Regions from separate parts of the Homo sapiens genome. Here regions 2, 3 and 4 are each reported to be linked to region 1. Evidence: microRNA targets listed by miRTarBase, many of them from high-throughput screens and not tested one by one. Region 1 holds a microRNA gene; each other region holds the end of a gene's coding sequence.
Evidence for each region. Region 1 holds the annotated microRNA hsa-miR-548d-3p (CAAAAACCACAGUUUCUUUUGC, at 3,725-3,746, opposite strand). A microRNA usually pairs through its seed, bases 2 to 8, with sites in the 3' UTR of a target mRNA and lowers its output. Matches are read on the target gene's strand: a 7mer-m8 pairs with bases 2 to 8, a 7mer-A1 pairs with bases 2 to 7 and ends in A, and an 8mer does both.

Region 1 (7,122 bases):
CCAAAGAGGTCAGCCTGATCTTGTAGAAAGCCGTCCCTGGGAAAATGATTAAATGTCAGTAAACAAGAGCATTTCAGAAACTGACATGGTCCCTAATGTTTGTGTTTAGAGACTCCTAATGTGTCAGAATTGAGTTGGAGACTTACGATGTAATTGCATGTCTTGTATTTCATGCCAGCCTCTCGGCTTGGTGCTGGGGCAGAGTGGGAAGCAGACCACAGAGCAGAGAGGGCCTCTGCCCTTTTATTGTCCTGTGAGAGAGATGGATATTCACAAATAATCCTGTCCCTAATTAATTGCAGCTGAGATAACCATTATAAAAGAAACTAGAGAGTGTGACAAGGGGTGACTATCTCTTGGTCTTGGTTGTCAGGCAATGCTATGGAAGGGTTATTTAGAGTCGTAGAAGTGTCTAGTACAACCACCAGCTGATGAAGATAGTACAGGAGGAAGCAGGCATGTTTGAGACATGGTGAGTTTCAGGCTCAATTAAGGAGCTGGAGATAGCTACCAGCTGTTAGCAACACTGGGGGCGTGCAGGAGCAGCATCAGGGACAGATTTGGGAGTCCCTTGGGGAAGCCGTGGTGAAGCCACAGGAATGAACAGGTGGCTTTCTTTCCTTTTTTTTTTTTTTTTTTTGAGATGGAGTCTCACTCTGCCGCCCAGGCTGGAGTGCAGTGGCATGATCTCGGCTCACTGCAAGCTCTGCCTCCCAGGTTCTGGCCATTCTCCTGCCTCAGCCTCCCGAGTAGCTGGGACTACTGGTGCCCACCACCACGCCCAGCTAAATTTTTTTGTAGTTTTAGTAGAGACGGGGTTTCACCGTGTTAGCCAGGAGGGTCTCGATCTCCTGACCTCGTGATCCGCCCACCTCAGCCTCCCAAAGTGCTGGGATTACAGGTGTGAACCACCGTGCCTGGCCGCTTTTTTTTTTGAGACGGAGTCTTGTTCTGTTGCCCAGGCTGGAGTGCAGTGGCACTATCTCGGCTCACTGCAACCTCTGCCTCCCAGGTTCAAGCGATTCTCCTGCCTCCACCTCCCAGGTTCAAGCGATTCTCCTGCCTCAGCCTCCCAAGTAGCTGGGATCACAGGCACCCACCACCACGCCTGGCTAATTTTTGTATTTTTAGTAGAGACGAGGTTTCGCCATGTTGGCCAGGCTGGTCTCAAACTCCTGACCTCAGGTGATTCGCCTGCCTCGGCCTCCCAAAGTGTTGCAATTACAGGAGTCAGCCACTGCGCCTGGCCCAGGTGACTTTCTTGAGAGAGTATGGAGAGGGATCTGGGAGAATGTCTGGATGAAACCTTCTTTAAGGGCCTGTCACCTACATGCAATAAAGACCATACTAATTGTAATAAGACCATTGTTTACTTTTTGTTCCCCAACTGGTGCAATTTTCCCAGTCCCTGTAGTAGCCCCAGGATGGCTCAGAAACTGTCTGGGTTCCTGCTGTAGACACTGTGAGAACTTCCTTTCCAAGTGTAGCCAAGCACCCGCCCCACTGCTGCAGCCTGTGCCATCCTCCCCCTTCTCTGCACACATTGCATATCCCTGTGGTCTCCGTTTTGAGCTCAGAGTGTGGGCCTCCAACCCTCAGCACCGTATCACTCCGTAGCTTATTAGAAATGCAGAATCTGCAGCCCCCGCCCAGCTTGCTGAATCAGCCTCTGTGTTTTAACAAGATCCCCGGGATCTGTCTGCCTGTTGACAAGGGAGAAGCCTGGTCTCGGTTACCTCCTCCTCAGCGTCCTGAGCCTGGCTGGATCGCCAGCACACTCAGACCAGCGGCCCCAGGCTCTTGTGACAGCAGCCGTCAGACCCGTGGGAGTTCAGGTGCGGGTCATCAGGGCCCTGCTGGCTACTCCACCTCTCTGGGTCCCTCAGCTCAGAGATTCCACTTGAGTGTAGAGAGAATTGTTCCCCTCTGCTCTGGTGCCCTCTTTGCACTAATGTTTAGGGACCTAGAAAGGGCATCAGGAAATAAGACAGAACAAAAGCCACCAAGAGGAAGAAGGAAATTCAAGTGCCATAGCTATAGAGAGGCTCAGGAGGATAAAAACAAAGCAATAGCAGGGGCTGAGAGATTTTTTAAAAATCAGCTTTACTGTGATATATAATATATATATGTGTGTGTATATGTATATATATAATTTTTTTTTGAGACAGAATCTTGTTTTGTCATCCAGGCTGGAGTGCAGTTGTGCAATCTCAGCTCACTGTAACCTCCGCCTCCTGGGTTCAAGCGATTCTCCTGCCTCAGCCTCCCAAGTAGCCAGGATTATAGGCACACACCACCACACTTGGCTAATTTATGTATTTTTAGTAGAGATGGGGTTTCACCATGTCGGCCAGGCTGTTTTCAAGCTCCTGACCTCGAGTGATCTGCCCACTTTGGCCTCCCAAAATGCTGGGATTACAGGCATGAGCCACCACACCTGGCCATATTGTGATATAGCTAACATAGAATAGAACTCACTTTAAGTGTACAGCTTGATGAGTTTTAACATATATATACACACACTGTAGTCATGTAACCACTGCCCCATCAAGATACAGAACATTTCATCACCCCTAGAACTTCCCTTGTGACTTTTAGCTGTCAATTACTTCTCTCTACCCCCCACATTCCCCACTCCTGTTCCTAACAAGCACTGATCTGCTTTTGCACTAAAGTCTTGCCTTTCTTAAAGTTTCCTATAGATGCAGTCATACAGATGTAGTCTCTTGTGTCTCACTTCTTTTGCTCAACACAATGTTTTTGAAATTCATCCATATTCCCCGTCCGGGAGGGAGGTGGGGGGGGTCAGCCCCCCTGCCCGGCCAGCCGCCCCGTCCGGGAGGTGAGGGGCACCTCTGCCCGGCCGCCCCTACTGGGAAGTGAGGAGCCCCTCTGCCCGGCCACCACCCCGTCTGGGAGGTGTACCCAACAGCTCATTGAGAACAGGCCAGGATGACAATGGCGGCTTTGTGGAATAGAAAGGCGGGAAAGGTGGGGAAAAGATTGAGAAATCGGATGGTTGCCGTGTCTGTGTAGAAAGAAGTAGACATGGGAGACTTTTCATTTTGTTCTGCACTAAGAAAAATTCCTCTGCCTTGGGATCCTGTTGATCTGTGACCTTACCCCCAACCCTGTGCTCTCTGAAACATGTGCTGTGTCCACTCAGGGTTAAATGGATTAAGGGCGGTGCAAGATGTGCTTTGTTAAACAGATGCTTGAAGGCAGCATGCTCGTTAAGAGTCATCACCAATCCCTAATCTCAAGTAATCAGGGACACAAACACTGCGGAAGGCCGCAGGGTCCTCTGCCTAGGAAAACCAGAGACCTTTGTTCACTTGTTTATCTGCTGACCTTCCCTCCACTATTGTCCCATGACCCTGCCAAATCCCCCTCTGTGAGAAACACCCAAGAATTATCAATAAAAAAATAAATTAAAAAAAAAATGTAAAAAAAAAAAATGTAAAAAAAAAAAAAAAAGAAATTCATCCATATTATTGGATGTATCAATAGTTTGTTCCTTTTTATTGCATAGTAGCATTCCCCTGAATGGATATACCACAGTCTGTTTATTCATTTACCAGTTGATGGACATTTGGGTTACTTCCAGTTTTGGATGATTTTGAGTAAAGTTGCAATGAACATTCACATACAAGTCCTTGTGTGGACCTACGTCTTCATTTGAGAGATTTTTTTCCTTTTAAACTTTTTATTTTATTAGGTTGGTGCAAAAGAAACTGTGGTTTTTGCCATTACTTTCAATGGCAAAAACCACAATTACTTTTGCACCAACCTAAATCTTCCCTCTCTCTGGATTTGCAATTATTCTGTAAATCTAAAGTTAACTTTAGCTAAATCAGGTTGACATCATATACCCCCTAAAGTTAACTTTAGATTTACAGAAGAGTTGCAAATCCAGAGAACCCCCCGTAGTCTTCATCCACCTTCCCCCAATGTTAATATCGTACTAATTATGATACATTTATCAAAACTCAAAAATTAACATGGGCACAGTTGTATTAACTAAACTCCCGACTTTCTTCAGATTTCACCAGTTTTTTCCACTAATGTCCTTTTTCTGTTCCAGGATTTAATCAGGATATAATGTTGCACTTAATTATTATATCATAATAGTCACTTTCAATCTATGTCAATTTCTCTGTCTCTCCTTGTTTTTTTATGACTTTGACATTTATGAAGTGGGCTGGTCAAGTATTTTGTAGGATGTCCCTCAATCTGGATTTGTCTGATGTTTTCTGATCATTAGACTGCAGTTGGGGTTTGGGGAAAGAATACCCCAGAGGTGAAATGGCCTTCTCATCACATAATATTAGGGGGCACATGATATCTACCTGATTGCTCACTGGTGAAGTTAACCTTGATCACTTGGTTAAGGCGTTGTCTACCAGAGTTACCCACCGTAAGCTGCTAATTTCCCTTTCCATACTCTGTTCCAGGGGTGTCCAATCTTTTGGCTGCCCTGGGACACATTGGAAGAAGAATTGTCTTGGGCAACACATAAAATACATCATTAACACTATGACAGCTGTTGAGCTAAAAAAAAAAAAAAAAAAAAAAAAAAAAAAAAGGACCGGGTGCGGTGGCTCACACCTGTAATCCCAACACTTTGGGAGGCCGAGGCGGGTGGGTCACGAGGTCAGGAGATCGAGACCATCCTGGCTAACACAGTGAAACCCCATCTCTACTAAAAATAGAAAAAATTAGCCGGGCGTGGTGGTGGGCGCCTGTAGTCCCAGCTACTCAGGAGGCTGAGGCAGGAGAATGGTGTGAATCCAGGAGGAGGAGTTTGCAGTAAGCCGAGATTGCACCACTGCACTCCAGCCTGGGTGACAGAGGGAAACTCTGTCTCAAAAGAAAAAAAAAAAAAAAGGTCTGTGCATAAATATCATAATGTTTTAAGAAAGTTTATGAATTTGTGTTGGGCCACATTCAAAGCTGTCCTGGGCCACGGGTTGGACAAGCTTACCGTCTATTCATTAGAAGTGAGTCACTCAGGGGAGGGAGATTAGGCCCTGCCTCCTACAGGGAGGGGTTTCAAAGAATTTGTGGACATATGCTAAAACCAGCACCATAATTAATGTGGTATTTTTTTTTTTTTGACGGAGTCTTGCTCTGTAGCCCAGGCTGGAGTGCAGTGGCCTGATCTCGGCTCACTGCAAGCTCTGCCTCTCAGGTTCATGCCATTCTCCTGCCTCAGCCTCCTGAGTAGCTGGGACTACAGGTGCGCACCACCATGCCCAACTAATTTTTTTGTATTTTTAGTAGAGAAGGGGTTTCACCATGTTAGCCAGGATGGTCGCGATCTCCTGACCTCGTGATCCACCCGCCTTGGCCTCCCAAAATGCTGGGAATACAGGTGTGAGCCACCGTGCCCGGCCAATTAATGTATTTTTATTATTTTAAAAGTTATTCTTATTTTTAGAGATAGAGTCTCACTATGTTGCCCATGCTGGTCTTGAACTCCTGGGCTCAAGCTGTCTACCCACCTCGGCCTCCTAAGTGCTGGGATTATAGGCGTGAGCCACTTTACCTGGCCTGCTTGTTTTTTTGAGACAGAGTCTCGCTCTGTCGCCCAGGCTGGAGTTCAGTGGCACAATCTCGGCTCACTGCAAGCTCCACCTCCTGGGTTCACGCCATTCTCCTGCCTCAGCCTCCCGAGTAGCTGGGACTACAGGCGCCCGCCACTACATCCGGCTAATTTTTTTGTATTTTTTTAGTAGAGACGGGGTTTCACCGACCTCGTGATCTGCACGCCTCAGCCTCCCAAAGTGCTGGGATTACAGGTGTGAGCCACCGCCCCCGGCCCTGGTGTGCTTTTTAATATTTTTTGGAGATGGGGTCTTGTTATGTTTCCCAGGCTGGCCTTGAACTCCTGAGCTCAAGTGATGCTCATGCCTCAGCCTTCAGAGTAGCAGGCATTACAGGTGCATGCCACCTCACCTGGCTAATAAATGTTTTTGGAGGGATGTGTTGAGCCTATGCAGGTATCCTGTTTCCCCTTAAAGTTTGCCCATGAACTTAACATTCCTCAGTGGACCCTGCCTGCAGCTATTATTACTGTAATGTTCTCCTGGTGATTTTCTATTCTCCCATGCCTTCTGCCTTTATTACATGGAATTCTTCTGTAAGGGAAATTTGTTTCTTCTCCAGGTATTTGTTTATCTATCCTCTCATTTATTTATATCAGTGTGGACTCACAAGTACTTATTTTATTCTCTGGGTGAGAGATGTTTTTAAGATGGGAAAATGGACTACTTTAAGTTAACCTAACTGTGAGCCAGGTAGCAGGAGGTGTGGGGAGGAGGAGCATAGATGCTGGGGGAGGAATGGGCGGTGGATGGAGCGAAGTTCCTAGGAAGGTCAGTGAGAAGGAGATCCGGAGGTGGGGGTCTTGGCAAAAACAAGGGACACCCTGTTCCCACAAATGGGTAAGAGGAAAGTTTGGGAGGGTCGATTTCCATGTCAGGAAGGAGAACTTGAAGGAGTTCCAACTAATTAGCTTTTGTCTTCTCCGTCAAGATGTTTTCTGTGACGACAATGGGAAGTTGACTTTTGGAATTTTAATTGTCTTGGCCAAAATTCCTGGCCTCTAGAGTAACGTTTCTCAACCTCAGCCCTGCCGACATTTGGAGCAGATAATTCATTGTTGTGGGAGCCGTCTTGTGCATTGCAGGCTGTGTCGCAGCATCCCTGGCCTCTACCCTCTAGATGCTTTAGTGCCCTCTCCTGTTTCCCCAGCAGTGACCACCAAAATGTCTCCAGGCAGTGTCAAATGTGCCCTGGGGAGCAAAATCGCCCCATGCTGAGAACCACAGATCTAAAATTAACACACACAATTCTGGCAATCCGTAGGATTCTTCTTCTCTTTATTTTTATTTTTTTGTCTCCCTCTGTTGCCAAGGCTGGAGTGCAGTGGCATGATCCATAGCTCATTGCAGCCTTGACCTCCCGGGCTCAAACAATCCTCCCACCTCAGCCTCCTGAGAAGCTAGGACTGCAGGTGCACACCACCATGCCCGGCGGCTTTTTTTTTTTTCTTGAAGAGGGGGACTCACTGTGTTGCTCAGGCTGGTCTCAAACTCTTGGGCTCAAGCAGTCCTCCTA
Region 2 (7,122 bases), not on the chromosome of region 1:
ATAAAACACTGACCAGGAAGACTCCCTGTCAGTACTTCAGTATGGCTTAGGTAGACCTTAAAAGTTCCTAAGAATTTTGGTATCAAATTAGATTTAAATAAGCTAAGCTTTTTAAGCTACTCCATGGCAGCCTGCCTTCTTACACATTATCACATAAGCCTCAGTTGGCATGTTGTTTTTAACTTCATACTGTAACAATTTGATGATATTATCTTTCCAATATGGGTTTTATAAAGATTGGAAGATTATCTCAAGTTGTAAATGCAAGGATTTAATAATTCTATTTGTTAAAATAATTATATGACCCTATTAATTCACCCAGAAATGCTTTACAGAAGCATATTAAGGATAACATTATCAAAAATAGTTTTATAATTTTTTTTTTAAGACAGGGTTTTGCTCTGTCACCCATGCTGGAGTGCAGTGGTGCCATCATGGCTCACTGCAACCTCAATCTCCCAGGCTCAAGTGATCCTTCCATCTCAGCCTCCTAAGTAGCTAGGACCATAGACACCCTTAACCACACCTTGCTAATTGTTTGTATTTTTTGTAGAGAAGGGGTTTCGCCATGTTGGCCAAGCTGATCTTGAACTCCTGGGCTTAAGCAATCTACCGGCTTTGGCTTTCCAAAGTGCTGAGATTACAGGCATGAGGCACTGTGCACAGCCTTATTATTTTATTTTTAATCTATACCATAATTCTCACTCCTTCTATCCCGTTGTCCGCATATATACATATCTACCAAAGACAGGTTGAGGGAACAGGAAAATGGCTGTTTTAAAATCCTTGACCTTTCCTGCATTGTTTATGTATGAACTGTCAAATTTATATGTCATTTTTTTATTCTTTGACATTCATATTTAGTAGACAGTATAACTCCCTAGAAGTTAATCTTGATAGTTAATTTTTATTACTTGGGATTTTGTTCCTCACTTAAAATTGTTTAATTAAAAAATATGTTTAATTATAATTCTAAAAGTCAAATGTATGATTTTTCTTTTTTCAGAAAGTCTTTATCTCTTGCAAGGTTCAGTAGTGGCAGATCATGACTACATTGGATTGCCTGAAATTCCGATTGGAGCATATCAAGCAAATATTCTGGTGGAAGATGCAACTATTGGTATAGTCGATAATGAATTACTGACATCAAGCAAGGATCGTGAACTATTAGAATATAGAAATACGAAAATCTCTCCATTGATAGACGATCATAGTTCTCTTGAAAAGCAGACTTTCAGTCTGTTGGACTCTTCAAACCAGGTTCTTGAATACTTAAGTTAGTAAATACCAAAATTTATTTAAATTGTTTGTTTAGAATATAAATTCTTAATGATATCTTATTCATTAAAAACGTTGTATAGAAGAAGTATCTTGACACATTCTTAATGACTATATTCTGAAGGTTTATTTTATAGTTCTTATCTAAAATTATGCCACATTTGAATATCAGTATACGTACATATGAAGGCAAAGGAAGCATGTAATATATAGAATTCACTTTTTCTTCTAAAAAGAGAACAGGCAAAGCACCCCTACTTCTTGGGAAATAAATTCCAGCCCAAATCTCTCAAACCTTTGTATGGTTTTGGCACCGTTTCTAAGTTTTAAATTTTCTGAAATTCTCTACCATTTAAACAGTAAGTTTGAACTACCTTGAATGGAATTGATAAATACTGAATCAACTGTAACAATGAATGAAATGAAGCTTCTTTCTGTTTCATTAGAACTTCTAAAAACAAGATTGTATGAAAAAATATAGGGTTATTTAATAGGCTTTCACAGAATATTGGTAATTTCAAATTATCTAATTGGTTAGATAGGGTCAGGATTAGGGTCTGAAACTATGTATTGGTTGGGAAACAATTTGTTTATTTTCATACTATATATTAAAGATAAAACCATCGACCAGGCATGGTGGCCCACACCTGTAATCCCAGCGCTTTGGGAAGCCAAGGCAGGATGATCACTTGACCCCAGGAGTTCGAGACCAGCCTGGGCAACACAGGGAGACCCTATCTCTACAGAAAAATGTTTAAAAATTAGCCAGGTGTGGTGGCACATGCCTGCGGTCCCAGCTACTCAGGAGGCTGAAGTAGGAGCATTGCTTGACCCCAGGAGGTCGAGGCTGCAGTGAGCCGCGCTCATGCCACAGCTCTCCAGCCTGGGCGACAGGGCAAGACCTGTCTCAACAACAACAACAAAAGTATCCGTTAAGAATTTTTTCTGCAATCATAAAATCATAAAATAACCAGTATCAAAGATTTTAAACTGTAATTTCTATGATATTCATAAATATAAAATAAATATTGTTCAATAAATATTTATTCTAAAGCACTATGAAAAGAACTGTGGGAAAAGTAAAAGATGAGTCAAACGTGTACCTCATTCTTATAAAGGACTTACTGTCTGGTAGGTAATAAACTATGTAAGCCATGTACAGCACAAGTTAAGGCATGCTAAATTGCAGAAGACAGGTGTAGATAATGTACTTAGGGAGGCAAAAAGAGAGAAGTTGTTTTTACATAGGAAATTTGTGTTTATCCTTATGGAAGAAGGATCATTTAAGCTTGACCTTGAAGAATGTATAGGATTTGGTAAATGGATACAAAAGAATTAGGGGAGAAGTAATACACAGAAATGGAAAAGTATTGTAATGATTCATAAAAAGGCAGGGCTTCTTGTTGTCTACACTGCCTCGGGTATAAAGTGAAGAAGCAAGATAATGAGGGATAAAGCTGAAAAGGTAAGTAGGAAACCTTATGGAGAGCTTTGAATACTATTAAGGATTGATATGTGCCCCTCCCAAAATTTGTGTTGAAGTCTTAACCCCCACCACCTCAAAATGTGACCTTATTTGGAAATGAGGTTGTTGCAAGTGTAATTAGTTGAGATCATATTTCAATAGGGTGGGCTCTAATACAGTATTACTGGTGTTCTGATAAAAGGGGAAAATTTGAACACAGACTCAAGGAGAATGCCATGTGAAGATAAAGGCAGAGTTTAAGATTATGTTTCTATATGCCAAGAAATGACAGAGATTGCCAGAAAACTACCAGAAGTTAGGGGAGAGGCATTGAATACATTTTTCCTCATTCCTCAGAAGACCAACCCTGTCAATACCTTATCTCAGACTTTTGCCTCCAGAACTGTGAGACAATAAAATTCTATTGTTTCAGCCATCCAGTTTGTGGGACTTTGTTACAGTAGCTCTAGCAATAATACAAATGCCTGGCTAAATTATTTCTTTTCTGAGAGCAAAAACTTTGTATAGGAAACTGTCATAATCAGAACTGTGTTTTTGGAAGTTTAATCTGGCAACTAGTAAAGAACAGATTAGAAGAGGAGAAAACAAGGCATGGAGATTAGTTGAGAGGACTTCGCAGTGATGACGAATACTAAAAACCTAAACTGGGCCTGTAGCATTGGTAATGAATGGAGTCTGTCTTAAGATCAGTACAGAATATCGCACATATTATATTTCACAACCATACTGAACAGTGATGTGATATCAAAGATGGAGACCTGGAGTATTCTGATTACTCATTTAAGAAGAAAGATTATGTTTAATATAGGCTAAAGGAAAAGTGTTTAGGGTAGGGTGTGAATCTAGGACCTCATCTTATACCACAGACCAAATAAATTTCAAACAGAATTCCAGGAAGAAAAAAACAAAACTTTTTTTAAAAAAGCGTAATTGTATCAAACAGTGCTACCTATCCTGCTTTCCTCAGAAGAGCAAAGTTTAGAAAAGAGTCATATTAGAATATCTTTTTGGTAAATATAAGTGACTTTTTCTTAGCTCAAATGAAGTAACTTCTTTTTAATGATTATCTGACTCAAAATCAGCCTCTTTTCCCCCCATTTCAAGAAGGTGATTAGTATTCAGAGTCATTTTAAAATAACCAACTCTAAACATATTTTTTTTAATTTTTGCTTCTCCTAAGTAGTTTCTCATTAAACAGACTTTTATCCTGTGTTTATTAGTCATGTTAGGCTAGATTATTCTGTGTCTGCAAACCACTTCCAAAATCTTAGTAATTTAACAAAGCTTTATTTCTTGGACACCCCACATATTTCTCTTAGTTCATCAAGGGCTTGTCTGCATTTTCATCACCACTGCTGGATGTGGGGCCATGGTTCCCCATCTCTGGAATAACAGCTCACCATGACAAGGGAAGGAAAACATGAACTGAGCATTAGATCTCAAAAGTTGCTGCAAAGTTATGCACATCTTTTCTACAAAGGTGAAACATAGCTACACAGTGCTAATTGGTATGGGGTTTCTTTTTGTGGTGACAACAGTGTTCTAAACTTACTAGCGATGGTTTCATAACTTTGAATATACTAAAATCTACTGAAATGTACAATTTAAAATGGTGCTCCAGGTAGGCATCCACAGTTCCAGGCTCCAGGACAGTCCCTGTGGTTCAGGGTCCAGGTCTTCCCCAGTAGACCTCAGAGGGCAGGCTGGCCCCTGAGGACCCAAGCATCAGGCCAGCCCCCCATGAGGACCCCACTAGATTGCCCACCATGAACCTCTAGACTGGCAGACTGGTGAAGGGCTTTCTCTGCCAAAGCCAGTCTATGAAGACTGGAAGAGGTGCCTATTTTTTTTAATGTGCAGGTAGCAACACAGACTGCAAGAATCCTGAATAATCAGGGAAACATGATGCCACCAGAAGAACAACAACAAAAAAGCACCAGTAAATGACCATAAATAAATCGCCATCTAAAAACTGCCTGAGAAAGAATTCAACACAATTATCTAAAACAAGCCAAATGAGCTACAAGAGGGCACAGACAACTAACCAAAATCAGGAAATTTACATGAAGAAAATGAGAAGTTTAACAAAAAGAGAGAAAACATATTTAAAATTAAACTTTAGAACTCAAAAACACAGTAACTGCACTGACAAATTCAACAAAGAACTTCAAGAGCATACTTGATCAAGCAAAATAAAGAATCAACAAGCCGAAAGACAGAGCCTTTGAAATTACCTTGTTAGAGGAAACAAAAGTGAAGAAAGCCTATGGGCCTTTGAGACACCATCAAGTAAACAAAAATGTTCATTATGGGAATTCTAGAAGAAGCAGAGACAGAGAAAAAGGAAGAAAGCTTTTTAAAAGAGATAAAGACAGAAAACTTTCCAAATCTGGAGACGGAAGTGAACATCCTTATCTAGGAATCCCAAGGAACACCACATAGAAGAAGTATAAAGAAATCTTCACTGAAACATAATCAAGTTCTCAAACTTATAAAGCAGCAACAGAAAAGCAACATTACATGCAAAAGAACCTTCATAAAACTATCACCAGATACCTTGCAGACCAGGAGAGTGGAATGAGATATTTAGCCAAAGAAACTCAACCAAGAATACTATACCCAACAAAGCTGTCCTTCATAAATGTAGAAGAGACAAAAACTTGCCCAGAAAAAAAGCTGTGGGAATTTGACACACTAGACCTGTCTCACAGAAAATTCTAATGGGAGTTCTTCAAGTTGAAATAAAAGATGCTAGCTAACAACATGAAAACATATGAAAGTATTAAACTTACTGTAAAGGTAGGAACATAGTCAAATTCAGAATACTGTAATGGTGGTGTGTAAATTGCTTATAACTCTAGTATGAAAGTTAAAAGACAAAAATATTTCTTAAACTAGCTACAATAATGTGTTAATGGCTACACATTATCTAAAGATGTGATATTAATAACAAAACGTGGGGAGAGAAGAAATTTTAAAAGTGTAGTTTTTGTATGTAATCAGAATTAAGTTGTTATCAGGTTAACATAGACTGATATAACTATAAGATGTTTCAGATGTGCATCATGGTAACCACAAAGGAAAAACCTGTAGTAGATACACAAAAAGGATAAAGAGAAAGGAGTCACAGTATACCGCCGCAAGACATTGTTATATCACAAAGGAAGACAGAAAGAGGAAGAGAGGGAAAAGGACCTACAAAACAGTGAAAACAATGAACAAAATAACAGTAGCACATCCATAGCTATCAGCAGTTACTTTAAATGCATTAAATTCTTCCATCAAAATACAGAGTGACTGAATAGATTAAGAAAAACAAACTCTAACTATATGGTGACTAGAGGAGACTTCAGATTAAGGATGCACATAGACTAAAAGTGACAGGATGGAAAAATATATTCCATGCAAATGGTAATCAAAGGAGAGCACAATGGCTACACTTACATCACACAAAATAGACTTTAAGTCCAAAGCTTTCACAAAAGACGAGGTTATTATATAATGATAAAGGGGTTAATTCATCAGGAAGATACTGCAATTGCAAATATATATACACCCAACATTGGAGCACCTAAATATATAAAGCAAATAGTAACAGAATTAATGAAGAAATAGCAATACAGTAATAGTTGGAAACTTTAATGCCCTACTTTCGCTAATGGATAGATCATCCAGGCAGAAAATCAACATGGAAACAGCAGACTTGAACAGCAGTATAGACCAATTGGATCTAACAGATATATGCAGAACATTCCTATTCATTAGTAGCAGAATACACATTCCTTTGACGTAAGTACAGGACAGTCTCCAGGATAGGTCATGTTAAGCCACAAAACAAGTGTTAATGAATTTAGGAATATATTAAAAGTATATCAAGTATCTTTTTTGACTCAAGTGGTATGAAACTAGAAATCCAAAATGGGGAAGACTGAAAAATTTGCAAGTATGTAGAAATTAACATAACTCCTGAACAACCAGTGGGTCAAAAAAGAACTCAATACTGAAATGTAAAAATATCTTGAGACAAAAGGGAAACAAAATAACCAGACCTTATGAGAGAGACCAAAAGCAGTTCTAAGAGAGTAGGTTATAGCATTTTTTTTAAAAAGAAATGACCTGACTCTACATCTCAAGGACTAGAAAAAGAACTTAAGCACAAAGCAGAAAAAAGGAGATAAATGACAGAGCAGAAATAAGCAAAATAGAGACTAGAAAAATAGTAAATGTCAATGAAATGAAGAGTTAGTGTTTAGAAAACATAAACAAAATTGATAAGCCCTTAGTGAGACGTAAGAAAAAAGAGAAAAGACTCAAAATTATAAATGTGAGAATAAATATGATCACTGATATCAGCAAAA
Region 3 (7,122 bases), not on the chromosome of region 1:
TACTTAAAAAAAAAATACAAAAAATTAGCCAGGCGTGGTGGCGGGCACCTGTAGTCCCAGCTACTCGGGAGGCTGAGGCAGGAGAATGGCGTGAACCCAGGAGGCGGAGGTTGCAGTGAGCTGAGATCGCGCCACTGCACTCCAGCCTAGGCGACAGTGGGAGAATCTGTCTCACAAAAAAAAAAGAATCAGGGCAGAGACCAGAGGCAAAGAAGAGCCACCCAGCATCATCGTCTACAGCTTAATGAGAGGGCTTCTCTTTTTTTGTCATTCCTGCTAGGGAGCAATGTGAAGTGTACCTAGAACGGGGGTGTTGATGGAACTGGGCCAGTTCAACTTCTGCGTTCTTTATGTTCTTTCCCACTGCAGCTTTTCCTTCCCTCCATGAGAAAGAAGCCAGCTCTGTCTGACGGCAGCAATCCTGACGGCGATCTCCTCCAGGAACACTGGCTGGTTGAGGACATGTTCATTTTTGAGAATGTGGGCTTCACCAAGGACGTGGGCAACATCAAGTTTCTGGTCTGCGCAGACTGTGAAATTGGACCAATTGGCTGGCATTGCCTAGATGACAAGAACAGTTTCTATGTGGCCTTGGAACGAGTTTCCCATGAGTAACTGAGGGGAGGGGTACTCAGCTCCATCTCCAAAGATAAACCTACTCCCCACAAGAACTGGCCTTTAATGTGGTATAACTGTTCCGCTGCCTTCTTGTCTGTGCTAATATAAATACTGAGTACCAGCATGTCCATTTGAACATGCAGAGGGTTAATCCTGCTTCCTAAAGCCTCAAGTACATGCCTCCTGCTTAGTTCACTTTGTATCACATTTCCTAAGCTCCCTTTTCCCCCAGTTTTGGGACACTGTGCTTACCTCCAAAAATCTCATCTCTTCCCTGGCATTCTCCCTAGGCTCTGTTTTGCCCAGGGGCTCCCGCTTTTTCTTGCTCTAGAAGAGCAGTATTCAACCTTTTAGCTATGATGACACATAACAAAAGATGCTTATGTACTAATAGTTGAAATCTGCCTTTTTCTCATTCAAGAAGGCATACAAATATCTGAGAGTGACTTTGTTGTATGGCTACCCTTGTGATCTACAGTAATTTATTCTTTCTAAAGGTAAAGCATTTTCAAAACTCAGTATTTAAACCACTAACCAGAAACATTACTTTGGATGCATCTCTAATACCATGTTTGAGCACCTCTGCTCTAGGTTGAGAATGACATTTTATTGTGAAGATGGGTGTGGTCCCTCTTCCCTTGAAATCTTGTAGTTTCTTTTTATATTAGCTCCTCACTGCTACAGCCTAGAAGGTGAGAAGCAGATTTTAACCCCATCTGGCAGCCATTCAAGGAAAACCCAGCCCTGGCTGTTTACTCAGGCTCTCTTAGAATGAGAGTGGAGGGTGTAGGATATGAGGGTTAGGCCTTTGCCACATTATACAAAAGTTTATAATTTGCCACATCTGGACAAGTAACTTTCTTCTTTTGTTCATAGGCAAGACTTCTTTAATGGATAGTATCATTTACTGAACCTACTGGGCATGGTCCTCATGGAGTTTTGGTTCAACTGGAATCTCTGTGCCAACCCAGGATACAAACTTCCATCCAGATGCATGGATACAAATTTCCATAGCTCCGGGGCTGCTCTAACAGTTTGATATCAGCAGACGTGTTTAAGCCTTCAACTTGATTTCCAATTATTCCATCATTTCTATTCTGAAATGACTCACTGTCGTAGAAGGAAGTTTATTATATAACCAAGGTTTCAGGTATCCTCCTGTCACCACCTCTACTATTCAGGAGGCCTAAAATTGAAATAAGTACTAAACAGAAACCTTACCATCTGAAGTCCCTTCCATTGTTTTCTAGTTGCTTCCTCATTCCTTTACCCCCAAACTTTCTAAGGGCTCCCCGACTGCAGTGCAAGGTGGCCTTGGGCACAGTTTTGCAACCAACCTACTCCCCTGGAAAGATGGCTTCCTTCTCCAATTAGCCTGAATGAGCTTTAGTAAGCAATTGAGAGAACTGTGTTTTTCCGACAAACGGTCACATGTCCATCGTTATGGCATGTGCAGAAAAACAGAGTTATCCACACAAGTCAGGAGCAAAACCCAAGTAGATGCCTCTAGGGGCACATGGCCCCTCACATCACAAGCCAGAACCTAAGCTAAGCATTTTTTAAATTGAGTTTGAGACTAGCCTGGGCAACATAGTGAGACCCCATCTCTATTTAAAAAATGAACAAAATTACCTGGGCATAGTGGTGTATACCTGTAGTCCCTGCTACTTGGGAGGCTCAGGTGGGAGGATCACTTGAGCCCCAAAGATGGTGGCTGCAGTAAGCCAAGATCACACCACTGGCACTCCAGCCTGGGCAACAGAGTGAGACCCTGTCTCAAACAAACAACAACAGTAACAACAAAAAAATATATAGCGACTTGAATAGGAAACCATAGTATTTCATTGTTTTAATTTGCATTTATTTTATTTCTAGTGAAACTTTTATATACGTATCGGTCATTTCTATTTCCTTTTTTGAGAACTGCCAAATGTTGCCCTAGTAGCCAAAAATATCAGGTTGCTATTCTGCCTTTTCAGTTTGATCTGAAAGAAATAAAGGCATTTAAGCAATGGAAATTAGATTTCTGCATGTCCTTGGGAAGAATATATAAATTGAAAAAACAAAGGAGAGCTGAAACCTGAACCTTGGGGTTTAGCTTAAGGTCAACCAACTGATTATCTAGTCAGCTATAAAATGCAAACGTCATTTCTTCATTTCCCTCACACCTAATAGGCTCTCAGTACATACTTGTGAATCAGCTGCTATTTGCTGTGGGTAGATAGAGGCAACCTGTGCTTTCTGCTCCGAGTATAGAAACTTCCGTTTTCTATTGGGGAGAGCAGTTGATTTTGTGAAAGCCTGATTGTTTCCACATAATTGTCTGTTGTTTTACAAAAACATGGAATCAAAGATGGGCAGTGGTGTACTGACATTTCACAAATTGTCACCATGTTGTATATGAGGCTACACATGTAACTGAGTAACTATGAGGACTTCTGCTTCTGATAATGGTGGATAGGTCCTTTGGACTACCCAGCTCACTGGTTAACTAGAAAGGCTGGACAAAATACTTTAGAAATCTGTGTGAACACACCAAGAGAGCCGACTTGACTTTGAAGAATTGCTAAACCAGGACAGCAGAGGAGATGGGAACCCTGGGAGGTGGGCTTGGTGTGAGGGCCACCGTTCTCCTGGGAGCATTTGCCAAACTTGGAGGTGATTCAGAGGCTTAGCAGTGATTTTAGCAGCCTTTCAGAAGTAGGGGATGGGGCCTGTGAAAGGGCGATGGACTTGGTGGTGTTACTCACTTTTGGTTGAAGCCCTCAGTCTTTTGCACCCCAGGAATAAGGGTGAGGCGGTGTAGGAAACAGGCTCTCGGGACTGCAGCCCAGCCTCCGATTACGGATCTTAATCCTTGAAATTAGATTAAGGTGATCCCAGAGTGGTAGTTTGCCCAAACTCTTTGGATAAGCAAACAAAACCCCTCTCTAGAGGATGTTATTATTATCCTAAACCCAGATTCTTTCTACAATTTTGCTAATACAATATCCTGAGTACAACAAGATGTAACCAGGCACGTGAGACAAGATAGCAGGCCCACAGTGGCTGGAGACATCGGTGCTATCAGACTAAAATAACTGCTTACCATGTTCAAGGAGAGACACTAGTTTGGGAATTCAGCAGCTACATGAACATGTTTTTTTAAAAAGTAAATTCTAGAATTTGTAAGAATCCAATAATCAAAATTAAGAATACAGTGGAAACTTGATTGGGCATGGTGGCTCATGCCCATAATCCCAGCACTTTGGGAGGCCAAGGCCGGCGGATCATGAGGTCAGGAGTTCAAGACCAGCCTGGCCAATGTGAAACCCTGTCTCTACTAAAAATGCAAAAATTAGCCAGGCATGGTGGTGCACGCCTGCAATCCCAGCTACTCCGAAGGCTGAGGCAGGAAAATCGCTTGAACCCAGGAGGCGGAGGTTGCAGTGAGCCGAGATTGTGCCACTGCACTCCAGCCTGGGACAGGGAGAGATTCCGTCTCAACAAAAGAAAAAATACAGTGGAACCAGCATGGGCAACATAGTGAGACCCTGTCTCCACAAAAAACAAAATAGCTGGGTGTGGTGGCACCTGCTTGTAGTCCCAGCTACTTTTGAGGCTGAGGTGAGAGGATCACTTGAGCCCAGGAGTTAGAAGCTTCAGTGAGCTATGATGATGCCACTATACTCAAGCCTGGGCAACAGTGAGCCCCTGTCTCTAAAGTTCACTGGAATGCTTTAACAGCAGCTTAGGCACAACTGAGGAGAGAACTAGAAAACTAGGGGTTAGACATAACTAACAGTAGATATGTAAGACCACAACACAAAACCTTATATGACATTACTGAGAGAAAGTAAAAGAAAACAAATTCATGGGGCCAGGAAACTATAGCCCACAGGCCAAATTCATTCAGCCAGTACCTATTGAGGCTCAGAAACTTTCAAGCTAAAAATAGTTTTTACTTTTTTTTTTATGAGACAGGATCTTAACTCTGTTACCTAGCCTAGAGTGCAGTGGCACAATCACAGCTCACTGCAGCCTCAACCTCCCAGGCTCAGGCGAGCCTCCCAGCTCGGCCTCCTGAGTAGCTGGGAACACAGGCATGTGCCAGTGCGCCCGGCTAATTTGTATTTTTAGTAGAGACAGGGTTTTGCCATGTTGTCCAGGCTGGTCTCAAACTCTTAGGCTCAAGTGATCCTCCCACCATGGACTCCCACAAGTGCTGGAATTACAGGTGTGAGCCACCGCACCTGGCCGATTTTTATGTTTTGTAAATGGTTATGTAAGTATATAATATCTCCAATTCTGCCTCAGCCCACAGAGCTTAGAATACTTATCTAACCCTTTAAGAAAAAAGTTTGTTAACTCCTAATACTGTTAACAATCTCAACTTCAAACTGATGTATAAATTCAGTAAATCCCAGTCAAAAACTCAAGTTTGTGTGTGTGAAATTCAACAAACTGATTGTAAAAGTTAAATGAAAATGCAGAGGACGAGGAGTAGCCGAGACAGTCATGGAGAAAAACAAGGTGGGAGAATTTTTCTATTGGACAGACAGTGTAGCTTGTCACAAGGATAGACAGACTAATGGAACAAAAGAGCTCAGAAACAGACCCACGCATATAGGACACTTGATTTATGATAAAGGTAGGAGTAATGATTTGGAGGGGGCATGAGGAGAGCTTCTGCAATGCTAGTAATGTTCTACATTTTAAAATCTTGATAGTTGCTATGTAATAAAGTGAGCTGTACATCTTCTGTGTACTTTTCTGAACATGTATTTTCACAATAAGGTTTTTATTTTTCTTGGGACAGGGCCTCACTCTGTCACCGAGGCTGGAGCGCAATGGCACGATGGCGGCTCACTGCAACCTCGAACTCCCAGGCTCAAATGATCCTCCTGCCTCTTAGCCTCGTGAGTAGCTGGGACTACAGGTGCATGCTGACATGCCTGGCTATTTTTTTTTTTTTTTTTTGGAGAGATGGGGTCTCACTGTGTTCCCCAGGCTGGTCTGGAACTCCTGGCCTCAAGTGATCCTCCTGCTTCAACCTCCCAAAATGCTGGGATTACAGGATTACAGGTGTGAGCCACCATGCCTGGTGACAGTAAGATTTTTAAAAGAATGTAAGTAGTGGTTCTATATAAAGCCCACTTTTCTAAACATCAGTTCTTCCCTTCAAAATCAGATAGCATTTCATTTCCATTATCTCCTAAATTTATACATATTTAAAAGTTAATAGCAGGGTGTGGTGGCTCATGCCTGTAATCCCAGCACTTTGGGAGGCCGAGGCAGGCGGATCATGAGGTCAGGAGATAGAGAACACGGTGAAACCCCTTCTCTACTAAAAATACAAAAAATTAGCCGGGCACAGTGGCGGGTGCCTGTAGTCCCAGCTACTCAGGAGGCTGAGGCAGGAGAATGGCGTGAACCCGGGAAGTGGAGCTTGCAGTGAGCTGAGATCCCGCCACTGCACTCCAGCCTGGGTGACAGAGTGAGACTCCGTCTCAAAAAAAAAAAAAAAAGTTAAATGCCTGACTCTACTTCCTCACTTCTAAGGATGATAAATTTCATAAGAATAAGGACTCAGAATATCCTATTTGCTCTTGGTGCATGGCCTAGTGTCTGACAAATTTATAATAGTTCAGTAAATAGTTTTGAAGAGAATTTAAAATAAACTCTGCTGAGTAGTGTTATCATTTTAATGGGACTAATTTAAAGAAGTTCATGCAGACTTTTGAAAATGGAGCTAGAGGTTAGAGCGAATTATATTTATTTTTTGGTTTACTGCAGCACTTTATTTTTCCTTATGTAAATAACAGTGGAAAACCAAAATTTGTGGTCATCTCTTTAAAAATTGAGAATTATGTACAAAAAACTTACATAAATTAAAAGAATGAATAAATTTACAGGTGTAAATGTAAACCGCTTCTAGCTCAAGACTTAACACTAATAGACCAGCAAGACAGAAATGAAACTGGTTCAGGAGCTCTTGCCAGGCTCTAGAAAAATCCTGGAATGGCTGGGCACAGTGCATCACCTAAGGTCGGGAGTTTGAGACTAGCCTGACCAACATGGAGAAACCCTGTCTCTACTAAAAATACAAAATTAGCCGGGTGTGGTGGCGCATGCCCGTAATCCCAGCTACTTGGGAGGCTGAAGCAGGAGAATCACTTGGACCCAGGAGGCGGAGGTTGTAGTGAACCGAGGTTGCGCCATTGCACTCTAGTGTGGGCAACTAGAGCGAAACTCTGTCTCAAAAAAAAAAAAAAAAAAGGAAAATCCTGGAACACTGAGCTCTCTGACACCTTAGTACCTGCACAGATAAGGAGACTGCAGGTCACACAGACCCACCAAGCCACAGACTTCCCTCCCACAAGCATGTCCTCACCTCAGCCATGAAGTTACTGAGCCACATGTACTAAGGGTATAAATCAAAGATATGTACAGGGTATTAAACAAATACCAAGGGAACGGTTAACAAAGTCAAAATCAGCACCAAGTTCTACAATCCGGTGCTGA
Region 4 (7,122 bases), not on the chromosome of region 1:
AGGTCATCTTTATTCACAGGAGGTGAAAGCACCATTCACACAGCATCGGAGCAGTTTTTTAAGGACTCTGCTTAGTTAGGAAGGAGGGAGGCATTCATCTTCTCATTTAATGGCACCATTTGCACAACTGAGCAACCATGGAAGCATTTCACTGTGACCGAAACACTTCTCACCACTGTGGCTTGGCATCTTTTTGTGAGAAAAAAGGCTCTAAAGAAATATGCTACCTTGCATTTGACATTCAGTTATTAAATTGTGTTGTGAAAAAGTGTAACATGCGGGCCGATTTAACAGCCTCATATAAATACTGTGTCCCAGAATGAACAACTTAAAAGAGGGGTGAACTGGTCACTGGGTAATCCTGGAAGAAATGGAAGACCAGCATTCTTCATCCATTATCAGCTGGATGGTAGTGCCCCTCTCGTGGGAGCTGAACATTATGAAGTGGCCTTCCTGTCAGTAGAGCTCAGAACCCTCAAATACCTTCTGTTGGGATTGCGAGTCGTATGTTCAGACTATAAAAAGGGCAGAGATAAGAAAGAGGATGTTTCGAAAACACCAAAGTAACTAACCCTTTAGGAGTCCTTCAACCTCCCCAGTTACCCTTGGCGCGCAGCATTTGAAGCTGTCTGTGAGGCCATCCTGCGCTTGTTTCCCTCAGACACTTTGTTTTTCATGTTTTGGCAGAATCTCCAATGAAAACTATGTTCCTCACGGGCTGAAGGTGGTGCAGTGTCACAGCCAGGGTGGCCTGCGCTCCCTCATGCAGCTGGAGAGCCGCTGGCGTCAGCACTTCCTGGACTCCATGCAGCCCAAGCACCTGCCCCAGCAGTGGTCAGTGGACCACAACCATCAGAAGCTGCTCCGGAAATTCGGGGAAGATCTTCCCATCCAGCTGTCTTGATAGCTGCTTTCCTCCCAGTTAGGACAAGTGGGAAGCTGGAGCCAAGGTTGAAGAGTCACCTCTTCCCATTTTAGTACATCATTAATTGTCAAAGCCTGTGTGACACAACTCAGAATACTAACCTAGACTAATCCCAGGATGCTTCTGCTGGAGCAAAGATATTGTTTGAAGGAGAGTTTATGGTTTTGGATTTTAAACGGGCAGGGTCTTTTTTCCTCTCATTTTTGTGGACAAGAGAGGCCTTCGCCTTTATTTTTACTCTCCCTCTTCTGCTGTCCCTGTGCAGAGGAAAAATGAAGAATTCTCCCAGAAGTGACTTGTCAAGACTTAAAAAAAATGTTTTTAATGCATTTCTTCCTTGTCTAGTGCCTCGGTTTATCTCTAACAGGGGCTGTCCAGTATATCGGTCCTGTTAGGAGGGGAGAAAAAGTTCTTCCAAAGGCTGGAGAAGTGAACAAGGAGTCAAATTTATTTTCCCAATTCAACTTCATAATTATCATTTCTTTGGCTTCATGCTCTCCCGTAACTCATGTGGTTGGGATCCATCCCATCTGGGTCACTTCAGTCTACTTCACGTACTTGAAAAGGCTTTCCTTTACACTTCCAGGACCAAACAGCAACTTCCTGCCACACACTTCCACCCTATCACTGGGAGAAATCCTTTTCTGGACATGAGCCTTTGACCTGGGTGGGGCAGAAAGAACCACAAACTCCATCTCCCAATAGAACTTTGAAATTCACTCAGCTTTTCCTTTCATGCTGTTTGTTGCCTGCTTGTTGCACTCCTCCTGCCCCAGAACTGCAAGATTTTTAGCTTCACCCCTTTCTGAGAGTAATGTTATCTTTTATCAGAATCAGTATCAGTTCCCCTGTATTCTGTGCTTCATCGAATTTGCAAGACTGACCTCTTTTAAGCATTTAATTCACTCCCAGAGTCATCTGGTCAGGTTGCAATATGAGGACTTCTCTGTCTCCTCTGAAGCCTGGGACACTGAGCTTACTTAATACATTAGATGTTCAAAAGAGGAGCGTTGTTTCATCTTTCAAAATGTTAGGCCATTACTTTGAGTATAAAATCGACTTATTAATGATTAGTAATTTTTCTAAAGTATTGGGAAAACTTTCTTATTTTATAAGATCTTAACAAGCTTAAAAAAGAATTTTATGACCAGAATCCAACAAGAGCTCTATTTTGGAATTGTGCCCAAGTTGGTGATGTTTACTCTAAAATTAATAATAAAACTACTTGTAAGCACAAGGCTCACTGGATGTAAATGTAAAACTTCGCGACTTTATAAAACTGGCATTCCTAGGGGAGGGGCTATTTATCCTACAGGTCCCTGCCTCCTGGCAGTGCCATGGTATGTGTGCATGGATATACCAGACACAGTCACCATCGGCCATCAGTAGCAGCCCATGAACCCACGTGCACATCCTGCATCTTGCTCTTCTGACCCTTCATTCCCACTTGTCTTCAGGCAGGCATTTCTGGGATCTAAACTAGAAATCCTTGAAAACAAATAGTACCAGCCACTTTGAGGAATGTGCATTCACTGTAGTGGGTTATTATGGGGTCTCTGCCTCCTGGCTGTGTTATGCGGAGCCCAGGAGTGGAGGAGAGCCGTGGAAATAGACAGGGAGAGGCTGGTACTTGGGTTGTGGTAATAGTCAGGCTTGCCACAAGAGGGCACTCATAGATTTGTTTTTATATTCATTCTTGAGAAAAAAGCAACTGGTTACTGAACGTAACTCATGACTTATGTTTCAAATTTTGCATAGCTGATTTTAAGTCATTTTGATAGCTTTGCAAGAAAAATTTTTCCTTTGAAACAAGGGAGTAGGGCTGTTTCATTTTCTTTCCTTCTAATCCTCATGCCAAGAGGTGAGAAACACTTAAGGTCATTTAAGGTGCTAGGGAAAGGGTTTTCCCATGGAGCTTTCTGTGAGGCGCAGTAAAATAGAGCCAGCAGCAAAGTAGAGGAAAAAGCCAGACTGCGTCACACAAGATTTCTCATCCTTTTCAGGAGAGAGTCACTGTGTAGATTTGAATCTTTTTTCTTTGAGTCTGCTTTGAACTTTAGCAGGCTTTTCCTAAGACTGACAATTGTCGTCTTAAATCAGAGATTTGAGGGTAGACTTATTTTATGGCAAATGTCTATTTTTCTGATATAAAAGTAACAATGCTCATTACAGAAGAATCTAAACAAAGAATAAAAATTAGCCATCTTCTCTCCATCTAAAACAGAGCTAAACTTTGCTGATATGTTTATGAATTTCCTTTCAGTATTAAAAAGTGCATATAAGGTGTATATTTACACAAAATTGAAGGTCATACATAGATACAGGTTGGTATCCTAACTTTACCCTCTCACTGATTAACATGGTATCACGAGTAACTTCCTATGTTTTTAAATCTTTGAAAATAGATTTCTAGTGGTTCTACCTTATCCATCCCCACACTGTTGAAAATTTTGGTTGTTTCAGATACTTTTATTATCAATGATGATGTGATAAAGTTTCTTGTATATATCTCTTTGGCTCTATCTTTGGTAATTTCTTAAGAATGGAATCTTAGAATTGGACTGTGAAGAGGGGGATTCACATTGCTGGGGCTAAGTACAAATTGACATCACCTTTTAGGAATGAAATGCTTCTCTTTGACCCTTTAGCTCCAGTGTCCCAGCATAGTCACTGGGCTTCATAGGAGTAGCAGTGAGAGGACAGTGTCACAGCAAGGGCCTCTCTGCATGCTCCCTGATCATTGTGTTTGCAGGTTCAGCATTTCTTCTTGAGTCCTTCCCTTCTTCCAACCTTATTGCCTCATTTCCCCCTTGTAGTCAATGTTTTTTGGAAACACTGTTTATTTTAAAATAAAAATGTAAAAAAAAGGTAAAAAAATAAAATTTTAAATTTTAAAATATAGGCTGTAGGCAGATGTTTTTTCCCTGCTACACAAACAATTAGTGATTTGCCATCCCAAAGTGAATGAGGCACAATATTCAGGGATTTGTTACGGCTTACGCTTAAGAGCACAGCCATAAGTTACTTATTCTTATCCATGTCACGGATAGAGATCAGATGACAAAATGTGTTCTGTTGAAATAAAGCCATTTTAATCATGCATTTTAGACTCTTAAGAATCCAGCAGGCAGAAAGAGGTTTTGTTCACCTTCCTATTCGCCTATTAGTTTGGGGCCCTAACATTTGACTGTAAGTTAAGTTCTTAGTTTACCCTGCCTCTCAATTTTTCATTCATTTATTTATCCTTTCTTCCTTTTTTTCCCCTTCCTTATGTCTCAGCCTTATAAGAAGTATCATTTTTTCTTTTAAAGGAGATATTTTCTCAGTTTGCTAGTTTACTAATTATTATGTATTTTAAATGGATCTTTCTTTCTGGTCTTTTATGTTTCCTATTATAAGATGGTTATTTTTTGAGAGTACCTAATCCCCTTAGGGATACACTGAGAATCAGTTTCTGTTGGAAGAGATAAACTAAAAGAGGGTATAAGAATGATTCTTGTTTTGATTAACTGTTGATTGATATGAATAACATAAAAATAATACATAATCTCCCCAGTACTTTTTTTTTTTTTTTTTTTTTGACATGGTCTCACTCCAGACTGGAGTGCAGTGGTGCAGTCATGGCTCACTGCTGCTTCAACCTCCAGGGCTCAGGCAATCCTCCCATCTCAGCTTCCCAAGTAGCTGGGACTACAGCCTTGTGGCACCATGCCTGGCTAATTTTTTAATTTTTTTGTAGAGATAGAGTCATGCTTTGTTGCACAAGCTGGTCTCAAACTCCTGGCCTCAAGCCGTCCTCTCACCTTAGCTCCCAAAGTACTGGGATTACAGGTATGAGCCACTGTGCTCAGTCCCCCAAATACTTTTGTTTTGGAATTCAGGTATAATTTTCAGGCATTCACCAAGATACCCCTTGTGCAAGAGCCCAGCACCTTCTGCCTGTCCCAGTCCTGGAGTAGTTTTGCATCAGGCAATGGAGTAGGGATGACGTGCAGCCACACAGCCCATGTGTTCAAAAGTACCGATTCCACCAGCCTGCTAGGAGACGTATTAGTCACTCCCTTTGCTTGAGGAAGCAAGGCCTTGCTTAAATGCTAGCATGTTATTTAGAAAGGTGGGAAGTACATTAGACCATTTTTTTTTTAACCAGCTTTATCTGTGGCCAACTCTGGTTGAAGGCCCCTAGAAACTGGGTAACTGGACCAAATGGTTAATCATTTGAGAGATAATCAAGAACTGCCTTTGCAGAGGAACAGAGTTGTCAAAGGACCTAGTTCATGCATCCTGGGTTGTACCCCCTTCTGATGTGGTGCAGGCTGCCTCAAAGGTCATTTTGTGTTGTGACTGAATGGAGATAATGTCATACCCTCCAGACTGAACTCAAAGCATTTGCTTTTTGCTATTTGTTATTCTTGAATTTTTCTCTCTTGCTGGATGGGTAGCCTGTTGCCTTTCTCCCAGCATAAGCTTCAAAAGCTGCCGAGTTTACAGGCAGCATTATTATAAGCATGATGTTTGGGTTCAGAAAATTCCTGAGTTGAAATGGCTACTTAGAATCTGCTTCTGCTGCTGCTGCTTTTTTTTTTGTTTTTTTTTTTTTTTTGAGACAGAGTTTTGCTCATGTCATCCAGGCTGGAGTGCAGTGATGCAATCTTGGCTCCCTGCAAACTCTGCCTCCTGGATTTAAGCGAGTCTCCTGCTTCAGCCTCCCAAGTAGCTGGGGTTACAGGCGTGCACCACCGCACCTGGCTAATTCTTGTATTTTTAGTAGAGACGTGGTTTCACCATGTTGGTCAGGCTGGTCTCGAACTCCTGACCTTAGGTGATCCGCCCGCCTCAGCCTCCCAAAGTGCTGGGATTACAGGCGTGAGCCATCGCACCCGGCCCCTACTTCTGCTTCCTAAAGATCTCCCTTCTCAGGCTGCAGCACGCCAGGGCGGAGTTGAGATTCTGGCCACTCAGGCCACCAGGGTATCTATTAAGTCCTGGGTAAGAAACAGAATTTTGAGCTTAGTCAGCTACAGGGGGCTGAAAAGGAATGAGACTGAAACATGGATAATTTTAAAGGAGGTATGTTTGTTTAGTGGGGATGGGGTAGGCTGGGGGCTTGTTCATGAACTGAACTTTAAATTTTGCTCTTTCCTATACCTAGTTCTGTCATGTATTGGAGGATCAAAAAAAAGTGTGCTGGTGACTGAGGTTCTGGTTCCAGCCACCAGCTGTGTGCCTTTGGACAGATCACTTTTCTGGGCTCCTTTCTGTATCTATAGAGGTTTGAATTAGATGTGCTGTAAGGGCCCTCCTAGCTGTAGCATTCTGTAATCCACCCCACTGTTTCCTTATGTGGCCCTTTCCCTTGAGTACTGTGTACTTTCTGCTTTGTTGCACACTCTCGTCCCACCCCCAGCGCTGGGAATGGAGACTGCATGGAAAGAAGGGTAATGAGGGAAGCAGGATGCCACACCATGGCCTCATTGACTAGGGAGAAGCCTGCTCTCTCCATCTGGTGTCAGAATACCTGTCTCACCAGAGATGTCTGTGTGTGGGGAGCTCACATTTCCCTATCGCCCAGTCCACTGAATAATCAGAAAGAGAGAAGGGAAATCTGTATGTTTAACCACATTGCCAGTGCTCTAGGATTTAATAGGAGATAAGTGTAAAAGGGAAATGAGGCAAGTGTGCCAGGTGTTGTAGATGGGAGGATATTGAGTGGGGAAAGACTGTTTCTCATTTTAAGGATAAAGAAATTAAGATTTTATATATATATACACACACACACGTATATATACATATATACGTATATATGTGTGTATATATACATATGTATATATACACACATATATGTATGTATATATGTATGTAATGGAGAATTGAATTGGGTACTTTGAAAAAAAAACCTTAAACCAATAAGTAAAAATACTCTTTCTGTGTTTTGTGTGTGGGGTTGTAACAGCCCAAGAATATTGGAGGCGTCCACACTGTTAACGTGTTCTTACCCATCCATGAGTGCTAAGACATGAAGAACTCACAGGGAGACAGGGAAGCATCTCCGGAGCCTGTTTTGTATAACCCTGACATGCCTTGGACTTTGTCCTGCTTGCCTTTGCCTTTGCCTGGGCATCAGCTAGACAGACATGTGCAAAATGTAAAGTTTGCATTTTATAAGCTGCTGAAGACATTTCTTTCTATATCTCCAT

Region 2: the mRNA of GIN1 is a reported target of hsa-miR-548d-3p. Seed matches in the 3' UTR shown: 7mer-A1 at 2,515-2,521.
Region 3: the mRNA of RABIF is a reported target of hsa-miR-548d-3p. The part of its 3' UTR that is shown has no 7-base or 8-base seed match.
Region 4: the mRNA of EXD2 is a reported target of hsa-miR-548d-3p. Seed matches in the 3' UTR shown: 7mer-A1 at 1,243-1,249, 7mer-A1 at 2,606-2,612 and 7mer-A1 at 3,309-3,315.

What each region holds. Positions count from the first base shown.
Region 1 is chr17:67,467,780-67,474,901 of GRCh38, forward strand. It overlaps MIR548D2 (microRNA 548d-2), which reads right to left and starts at 3,806; the gene lies at 3,710-3,806. The region is part of intron 1 of PITPNC1 (phosphatidylinositol transfer protein cytoplasmic 1); the gene reads left to right. It overlaps MIR548AA2 (microRNA 548aa-2), which reads left to right and starts at 3,710; the gene lies at 3,710-3,806.
Region 2 is chr5:103,082,057-103,089,178 of GRCh38, reverse strand. It overlaps GIN1 (gypsy retrotransposon integrase 1), which reads left to right. Exons shown (of 8, transcript NM_017676.2): 8 at 1,007-3,179. The coding sequence ends at 1,281. Among named protein-coding and RNA genes, the nearest start is that of GIN1, 35 kb to the left of the region's middle.
Region 3 is chr1:202,874,471-202,881,592 of GRCh38, reverse strand. It overlaps RABIF (RAB interacting factor), which reads left to right. Exons shown (of 2, transcript NM_002871.5): 2 at 370-3,311. The coding sequence ends at 615. It also overlaps the pseudogene ACTG1P25. Among named protein-coding and RNA genes, the nearest start is that of RABIF, 11 kb to the left of the region's middle.
Region 4 is chr14:69,240,197-69,247,318 of GRCh38, forward strand. EXD2 (exonuclease 3'-5' domain containing 2) reads left to right here. Exons shown (of 10, transcript NM_001193360.2): 10 at 688-3,822. The coding sequence ends at 904. The region is part of intron 2 of GALNT16-AS1 (GALNT16 and EXD2 antisense RNA 1); the gene reads right to left. Among named protein-coding and RNA genes, the nearest start is that of GALNT16, 16 kb to the right of the region's middle.